Homo sapiens: one gene and its partner. The protein of the gene in region 2 purifies or fractionates together with the protein of the main gene of each other region. This does not show direct contact. Each region holds a gene or a part of one and is shown on either strand. Other genes may lie near its edges. The genes, in order: RUNX2 and SMAD5.

Region 1 (3,570 bases), on a different chromosome or scaffold from region 2:
GAAAATAGTGCCAAAGGGTTAAGAATGAGCAGATCTTCAAGGTCTCTAACTCTCCCTGTGATGTGGGTCAGCTTGGCCACTGGCTGACCTTCTCTGCACCATGTTTTCCTGGGTCCCTATTTTAGAATTGTGGTGAGCCCAAGCATTCAGAAAGCATAGGACACAGAGAAAGCAACCTTTCTACCCCAGGTCTTCAACCTTATCACAAGGGGGGGGACTTACCAAAAATAAACAATGGCCACGGGAAAAAAAAATCTCCAAACTATAGTTATGTTCACTAGGAGAATTCTTCTGAGGCTATAGCCCTCCAGGCCAAGGTCCGTTTTTACTCATCCTTGGGCTTTGGTTGACTTTATTTTTAAGAACCCAAAAGAGATGTGGAAAGGAAAACAGACTAGCCTATATCTGGGCTGCCTGAGATCTTCTGTTGATAGCCAGAGGTTCACTTGCGGGGCCCTGTTCATGTTCTCAGAGATTAGAATCATGAAGCCATCGAGACTGCATCTATACGCCTGATAGGTCCCCCAGTTGGAATAAATGGCCTTACTCAAGGATGAGGTGAGCACTCCTTCCTTCAGACACAAGCTAGTAAGGAAGTGAGTTCACTGCTAGATTCTTTGCCCACCCCTCGCTAGGAACAGGACAAAACAAGAAGACACCGTTTACCAAGATTTTTTTTCTTCTCCCCAGTAATATAGCATCTCTTCTCTTAACTAGCCCTGGCAAGTCCTAAGACCAAACAGTGCCCAGGTGTAAGCAGGAGTAGACATCAGACTAGGGAGAAACCGTGAACAAGAAAAGACCCAAGGTACACACATAACAAAACCAAAAAAGCCATTTTATTGAAAATTAAATTCAAACTTCAAATTAATATTACAATCATGAGAAAAATGCCAAATAATTCAATTTACAGTTGCAACATACAATACAAATAGTCCCTTTGAAGTTAAGAGTAAACTCATCCACAATCATGACCTGTGGCACAAAGCGGAATTTTTACAATATGTGCATGGAAAGCAATTCTTGGGCAATAGCAATTGGAAAAAATAAAAATGAAAGCTTGTATTTACACAAAATGCTACAAATATTTTTGTTCCACAGAAACCTAAGAATGGTAAAGCATATCCAAAAGAAATGGAATTTTATTCAGAATACCTAAGAAATTATTGTAAGTTATGGTTTTGGCTGATATATTTCAAAGTACTGCATTAAAAAGCAAACAGTTATTTGTAAACATGAAGTAAACACACATCTAAAAAATTCTCACATAGAAAATATTTTTAAATGCATTCGTTTTCTAAAAACAACAAATTCAAGGTTTGGAAGAAGTGTCTTTTATTATTGTTCTTTCAAATACCATAGGTATAATTATTACTTTTGCTAATGCTTCGTGTTTCCATGTATTAACCTGGATTCTGGGCCAGTCCCTTTCCTCGGAATTGAGGGAATCCTTAAAGCTGTACACACATCTCCTCCCTTCTGAATTTATCACAGATGGTCCCTAATGGTGTGGACTTCTCTGCTCATTTTGAAAGGGCTCTGGCAAGTGAGAGGCAGTGAGACCGTCTAAAGAGCAAACGATAGTTAATCTGTTGAGTTTCTCAGTTCTGGGCTGAATGTTATTCCACTAATCTAAAACCAAAGCTGTGGTACCTGTTCTGGAACTCTGATATGGGTTAAAATTTGTGAGACAACTGAAATGGATAAAAATGTGGCTGCATTGAAAAGACTGCAAATTCCAGCAATGTTTGTGCTACAAAGAGAACCACGCTATTTTAATTCCCAGGAACTAGTACATGGTTCCACAGTAGTAGTAAGACTTTGCTTTGGTCTTGAAATCACAAATCAAACACATGACCCAGTGCAAATTAAGGGTTCAGTGAAAAAAAAAAAAAAAGAAAGAAAGAAAAACAAAATTTTAATCCCTAGACCAAAAAAGGGCAGAATTTGTTCTAAGAAATGTGAATTACCCCCATTGGGGTGGTTGGAGTGAGGGTGGAGGGAAGAAGTGCTTGAATTTTTCCCAAGGAAAAAAAGCTTCTAAAGTGTTTCTGGGTTGCTGCCTGCAGCCACTATAGTAACATTTCAACACAAAAGCATCCCTAAAGTCACTCGGTATGTGTACTGTAAACTTAAAAAAGCCCTTTTAACATTAAAAAATAATGTACAAATATAGTACCTTTTTAATTAAATAGGATGCAGCTGGCACTGGCGGTAGCATTTTTATGTCAATTAATTAAAATTGAAATGTGTAACCAGACACTGGCTTTTTTAAGTGCTGCTGAAACAAACACACATATTTTACACTTACAAATAAATGGACAGTGGTGTGCTTCAAGCTACCACACACAAACAATAAATAGTATCAATTACTACTTCCTTCTTACTTAAGTAATAGAAAAGTGGCTTATTTATCTAAGCATACTTGGTATACGGCCTTTAGAAGGCAAAGTGTTTTGCTTTCCCATCCATTTTTATTAGAAGGAGTCAGGATGAATTCCAAGGGAGACTCCCAGGCAGGAAGCACAGGTCCAGCTGCCCCACACGCTGTCCTGCAATGCTGGGTGGCCTACAAAGGTGGGTTTGAGAAGGACCAGAGAACAAGGGGGCCGTTAGGGTTTGAAGGCAAATCTCTGCTAAATTCTGCTTGGGTGGGTGGAGGATTCCAATGAAGGGACCCTGACTTTTCGGGGAGGAGAGCAGGGATTGGCCTGGTGGTGTCATTAGATGATCCTTGTTTGGATTAAGGATTTGCACTTGGAAATCTGCCATGTGACTGCCAGGAGTGGTCAAAGTGCATGCCACAGAAGGACTCTAGCTCAAATTCATACACACTAGTAGACACCAAACTCCACAGCCCCTTGCCCTCCTTGGCCCTCCATTGTAAGAAATACAAATGTCAAAGGCTGTCTGTAGGTCCCCGTGGGCCATATGTCCTCTCAGCTCAGCTACCTGCTGGAACCTGCTGCCTTTTCAGAGGACCTACTCCCAAAGGACAGTGATGTCATTCTGCTCCTCTAAATGCAAATTCTGTGGAAAGCTGCCAGTGGGGCCTTGGGTAAGGCAGATTGGGGTTCCCCTGTTGTGTTGTTTGGTAAGGCTGGTTGGTTAAGAATCTCTGGTGCAATTTTGCTCTCCTGTACTAGGTGTCTCATAATTGAACCCTCTATCCACATGTGCGGCTTTTAGCTGACTATGTCTTTGCTATGAAGCCTGGCGATTTAGAGTTTTGCTTAACTATGAAACCACAGAACATTTTTCTGTAGTTCAATGATTTACTTGTGCTTGTCTTTTTAATATGACAAGAGTCATAATTACCCCAAAGAAATTAGAAAACCACATCACTCCAGCATTTCATGCTGATAAAGGGCTAAAGGTTGTTTTTTAAATCCCTAATTACCGCTTTAGAAGGCAAAGCTGTGTTAGAGGCATTCAAAGATCTGAAAGAACTAAACATAACATTTCCTTCATACATCACAAAAACAATCTATATCTAAAATATTTGGAGATGGAAGTATTTTTTAAAATCACATTGTGCCTGGATGAACTGAAATTGCTTAGCAATATTTC
Region 2 (5,706 bases):
AAGTAGCTGGGATTACAGGCACGCGCCACCACACCCGGCTAATTTTTGGATTTTTAGTAGAGACGGGGTTTCACCATGTTGGCCAGGCTTCTCTTGAATTCCTGACCTTAGGTGATCCACCTGCCTCAGCCTCCCAAAAAGCTGGGATTACAGGCCTGAGCCACTGTGCCTCGCTCACCATTCCTTTCTAATTAGAATGAGTTTGCATGTCTTGTATATGTAATTCAGAGGTTGGTAAAAGTGTGCAACACAGTGACAATGATGCAAAGTCAGTCTGTGATTTAAAATTTTTTCAAAAAAGAAGACAAAAGGAAATAAAAAATTGTAAATTCACAAAGTGGATCATCAAAGGTTGATACACCGAGGTCAAGCAACATAAGAAGTAATTATTCTGAATCAAAGAACTAGTGGAAATGTAAAAGATAGTAACAATTTTAATATTTGAGTTCTTATGTTCTAAGTACTGTTCTAAATACTGTATTTGTATTACACTTCAATTAATCTTCCCTCAAATCCTTCCTATGAAGTAGACTTTTCCTTTACAGGTCAGGAAAGTGAGGCATAGAGTGGTTAAGCAACTTGTCTAAGCTATGAGGCCCATGACTCAAACGCAGGCAGGCCAACTCCAGAGCCAAAACAAAAAAAGACACATTAAGCAGGTTTTGAGGTTTATTAAAGTAAAGAATTAGCAAACAATATGCAAAAACAAAGTTCTTAAGAGTTATGGCTTTCAAAAGCACAATATAGTAAAACCTAATACATTTTCATAAGTATCAAAATAACAGAATTGAAGCATGTTGCTAGAATTTCAGCTTCTACAACATAAACAGAAGCACAACAAATACAAATAAGCAGCAGACCTACAGTGCAGCCACTAGCTTGGTCTTCATTATCTGTATATGAAATATCTTTTTAAGAAAATGTGGGCAGGTAGATACAAACATTCTATTTCCATGATTACAATCCTCTTCGATTTTAAAATAAGTGAATTTCAAAATACAACTTACGCCAACCATATTTAAAAAAAAAATCACTTGCCTAACCATTATCTTCTAGAGTTCCTATAGTTAAAATACTTTATGAATAAATCAATGCAACATCATCTTCAATGATATTAGAAGGGAAAATCTGACCCTAAAAGATTTTTTTTTTTTTTCCACAAAGAACTTGGGATTCTTTGGCCTTACTGGAGTTTTGTTATAGCTAACACCAGTCTGTATTAATTAAGAAGGCACTATTAATGAGGGACGGAAAAATCTACCTGTACACAAAATTCTGTACTTTAACAGCATCTTCAAATAAACCTTTAAAGGATAATGGTTTACGATCATTTTAAGAATTTTAAGAACTGAGTTATTTGGACAAGAACCATACAAACCTTTTTCACTCTGCCATGAATGATCGAAGAATCCTGCTCTAGGACTGGATCTTTTCAGAGAAAATAACTTATCACCTGTTTTACTGCAGTTGCTACTAGCAATTATTATATAGCATGTGCTCTTCAAAACAGAAATAAAAATTGATGTGTGAAATCCCTTTCATTGGTTTTGGTAAACCATCCAATTTTGGGCTGTCATTTCAATTATAATACAGTTGTATTTTAAGAGAGAAGATAATCCAATATAACAAAGGCTTGATAAATATTGTCACTCTGTAATCAGGACATACTAAACTGTAATTCAGCGAATTCCAAAGAACTTTCCAGGTTTCTGTCCAGCAGGTAGAATTCTTTGTTTATGCAGAAGAAATGCCTTCAATTCTCACATTCGATTCAGGCATCTTGTGTGATAAGAAAAGCTCCTAAGAATCTTACTTATATCAATGAGAAAAATGCTGCTGCTCTGGGAGACCTGAGATTACTCCCCAAAAAGCTGCCCTAATAATATCTGATACCACCTATAAACCACCACTTAGGAAAACTCTCTCCATAAAAATCACCAAACACTTCTAAAACCACCAGGCTACCTACTACCCTAAGATACTTGCTCATCTAGCTGAACAATATAACGATGACACACATTTATATTCATACCCAAGAGATTAGGTGAGGATTTAACTAGTAAGACAAAGAAGGGATCTGACATTCTTTAAAGTTAAAATGTAAGTCCAAAATATAAGTCATCACAAAAGGCTGAACTCAGTAATTATCAAAAAATTCTTCCTTCCTCATGAAGTAAAAAGGATATTTATATATTTTAAGTGGCAAAGGTGATAATCATCCAAAGTACTATTAAGCAATTGATTAGAAAAAGTATAAAGAAATAGATCTAAATTGGTACATCAGATGTTCTCTATCACAGAAGTACAGCACTTTGATAGGTACTATCAAACTTTTTAGAGTTTCTCTGCTGTTGGAAGAATTTCATTTTTTGTATAAACATTCTCTTCCAACAAAATACTACCACACAGGGGAAGGAACTGTTCCCCACAGGTACCCTCAGGTAATATGGAAGGTTTTTAACATGAACCCCAGTTCTAATCTTGACAACAGATTTCAGGTATGAGTACTTAATAATCACTTCACATCCTGAAGGATATCTTACTCTCAAATGTTATGAAAGGTATAAAATAGCTACATCCTCTATCTGTGCCATTAGATGTGGCTTGTTGAACTGTCTAGTACTCTTACTCTGGATTTCACCTCAGAAACCCAACCAATTCTATTATTTTTTTTATATAGCAACAATACAATGTGAAAAATTATTTATATTCTGACACACATATTTGACATTTTGATTGACGTCTTCCTTAAATCTCCTCTTAAAAAGAGGGTTAGTTTTAGCAGATCAATAACACGCCTACTAGTTTACATTTCACGTCAGCCAGGCAATACTGACCAGACCAATACTGACCAGACCATAAATATTATGTAGAAATGTTAAGCAAATGAATCTCTTATATCTTGCTTTTTGCCAATCAATATCTTTTTGTTGCTTTAATTCATTACTGAGATTTCATTCTATTCTGCTGTTTGCATTACCAAACTGGTTGCAATTTTATTATTCCCAGATTCTGTCTTTTCAGCCAGCATAAATATATTGTACATGCTATGTGATTATTCTAGTGGTGCTAGAATTTTACTATAAAACATTCTGTAGATTAAATTAAAACATATAACCATAATTTGCTAAAATGGTTTCTTTCAGAGGTACTTTCCTTTCACTAGCCAGTTTTTAAAAATCTTACTAGCAAATTTTATCTCCTATACATAGATATATGAAAATCCTTAGGGACTGTAAGAATAGCTGGACTGAATAAAATTTTCATTTAAAGTCCAAGGGTGGGGAGTTGACAACTTTTAGGAGATACAACAGGCTTATAGTTCTCTGTCAAACTCTTAGTTGTTAATAGCTTTAGTACTGTCATTCATGAGACACAACTCCTAAGAGAAAACAAAGAAAAGGCCAATCACGTAAGATCTTGTTAACTCAAGACTGTGACATAATGACCCCAAATAAAAACAATTTTTAATTAACTCACAGTAGAAAACACCAATAAAACAACTCTCTAATTTCCACTAGTTTACTGCAGCCCAATGAAGTTGATTACATACATCAGTCATTCAATTGGAGTAATTTTTTCCTACAAATTTGTTCCAGAGATCATGCCATAAGCCTGGTTAAGTAAAAGAATGATGAAAATGCCAAAGTTCTATCAAGTAAGCAAATATTCTCTTTCGTGTGGCAGACAGAACTCTGGAAGAAACAGAATGCATGTCATGTAATACTTACATTTAAGGCTCAGGTGACTGTCAGAAAGTATTTCTTTTACCCAGCAAAGAACTGTGAGCTGAAACACAAATGGCAGTTCATCTGAAAGAACTAAAACCATCCACTGGCTGCACATTGAAAAAGCAATAAATAATGACACAGAAAACAAAAGAAATTGCATAATTCTTTCCTCGAAAATGCTTTTTTTTTTCTTCACAAGAGCAGAAAGGACAAAGTGGAAAGTCAAACCAAACTAACATTTTAAACAGAAGAATGATATGACTCCATATACTTTCAAAAGGCACCAGAAAATAAAGCTTTCACTGATAGGTAAATTAGGTCATTTTTTTTTTCCAAAATAATTTCTTCATTCTCATGTCATAATTAAGTGTCCATTTGACAGCTCCTGAGAAAAAAACTGGTTCAAAGTTCTTTATCCAAAGCCAAAAACATGATTGATTAAATGGATATTTTGGAGTTCGTTCATGTCTTTTCTCTCTAAAGATTGTGTTTTGGGAGACTAGCTTCCACATAAGTACTTAAAAAATGGAAAAAGAGGATCATCGATAAATGAGAGAAGAGTCTATATTCGTTGATGGGTGAGTGTTTTGTTTTGTTTTGTTTTTTGAGGCAGAGTCTCGCTCTGTCGCCCAGGCTGGAGTGCAGTGGTGCGATCTCGGCTCACCACAACCTCCGCCTCCCAGGTTCAAGTGATTCTTCTGCCTCAGCTTCCCGAGTAGCTGGGACTTCAGGCACGCACCACCATGCCCAGCTAATTTTTGTATTTTTTGTAGAGACAGGGTTTCACCATATTGGCCAGGCTGGTCTCAAACTCCTGACATCATGATCTGCCTGCCTCAGCCTCCCAAAGTGCTGGGATTACAGGTGTGAGCCACTGTGCCCAGCCGAGTGTTTTAAAATCAGCTATCCCTACATCCACTGCTGATTCATTTAGTATCAAATCAGTAGCCTTATCCTTGGGGCCCAACTGAAGAGCCTCCTACGGCTCCAGTGCATAGGTCCTTGCGTAGGGAGGCTGATACAAGTAAGCTGACACTTGTAAGAGCAATGGGATTAACTACATGATTCTCCAGCACTGATAACACCCATAAAACTGTAGGGAATTAAAAAGGCACCTTAAGTTGGAGCTATAGAATAACAGTCTTATAACCTAGGTTGAAAGTAAAACAAAAACCAGAAAAAAGCATAACTTCCTACAAATGTAATCTATAAATTGCAGTGTTTGTTAATACAAAAAAGGTACCAAGGACGTAAGGATAAGCATCTAAGTCCAAGTCACTTGAGTGTATTTTATCAAAGGTTATGCTAAAAACTGTCACCCATAAAAGTGCAAAATAAAAGATTAATGCATGTCAAAAATAGAGTTCTTGCAACATTGTCCAAAAGCAGCAAACATAGTTGAACAAGGCTGTGCATGCACTGTCACTAGCTATAAAGTAATGCTTATGACAGATTTTGAGTAAATGACATATACTTGAGATCAGTTATTTGCAAAAATTTTTTTAAAAAAGGAAATGTCTTACAAAAGATATATAGCATGAAGTCACATTACACTGAAGAACACTTATCTGTATTAAATGTAAATTTTATGTCATCTAGAAAACTATCATTTTGCTTTTACTGAACACTACCAGTTACAGCAGTGCATAGTGTTCATTCAAATAAAACTTTATAGTTTCTTTTAAGCCCCTACCATACACTTTTGCAAAACAATGAATTGTACTTTTTTTTTTTAAGTTGGTGGGACAAAGAAACTGGTAAAAGTACAGCTTCTGGAAGATCGAGAGTAGGAGGGAAAACTTACTCTTCACTGTATATGCCCTCTTATAAGCTACTATAATTTTTCATCATGTGATGCATTTTCAAATAAATTTAATAAAAAATTGTTAGGGCAATAAAGTAAAAGCATGTTCCAGTTTAAGATCAATGCCAAATTTCTGAACTGGGGCATAATACTTACTCTGCATCTTTTACA

The links.
Region 1: the proteins of SMAD5 (region 2) and RUNX2 purify together in Homo sapiens (affinity purification with western blotting; 2 studies listed by BioGRID and IntAct, with this or other methods). This does not show direct contact.

What each region holds. Positions count from the first base shown.
Region 1 is NC_000006.12:45,548,330-45,551,899, reverse strand, and holds the end of RUNX2 (runt-related transcription factor 2), read right to left. Parts: 3' UTR 818-3,570; downstream 1-817. UniProt on the Homo sapiens protein: Transcription factor involved in osteoblastic differentiation and skeletal morphogenesis. Essential for the maturation of osteoblasts and both intramembranous and endochondral ossification.
Region 2 is NC_000005.10:136,177,684-136,183,389, reverse strand, and holds the end of SMAD5 (mothers against decapentaplegic homolog 5), read right to left. Parts: 3' UTR 657-5,706; downstream 1-656. UniProt on the Homo sapiens protein: Transcriptional regulator that plays a role in various cellular processes including embryonic development, cell differentiation, angiogenesis and tissue homeostasis.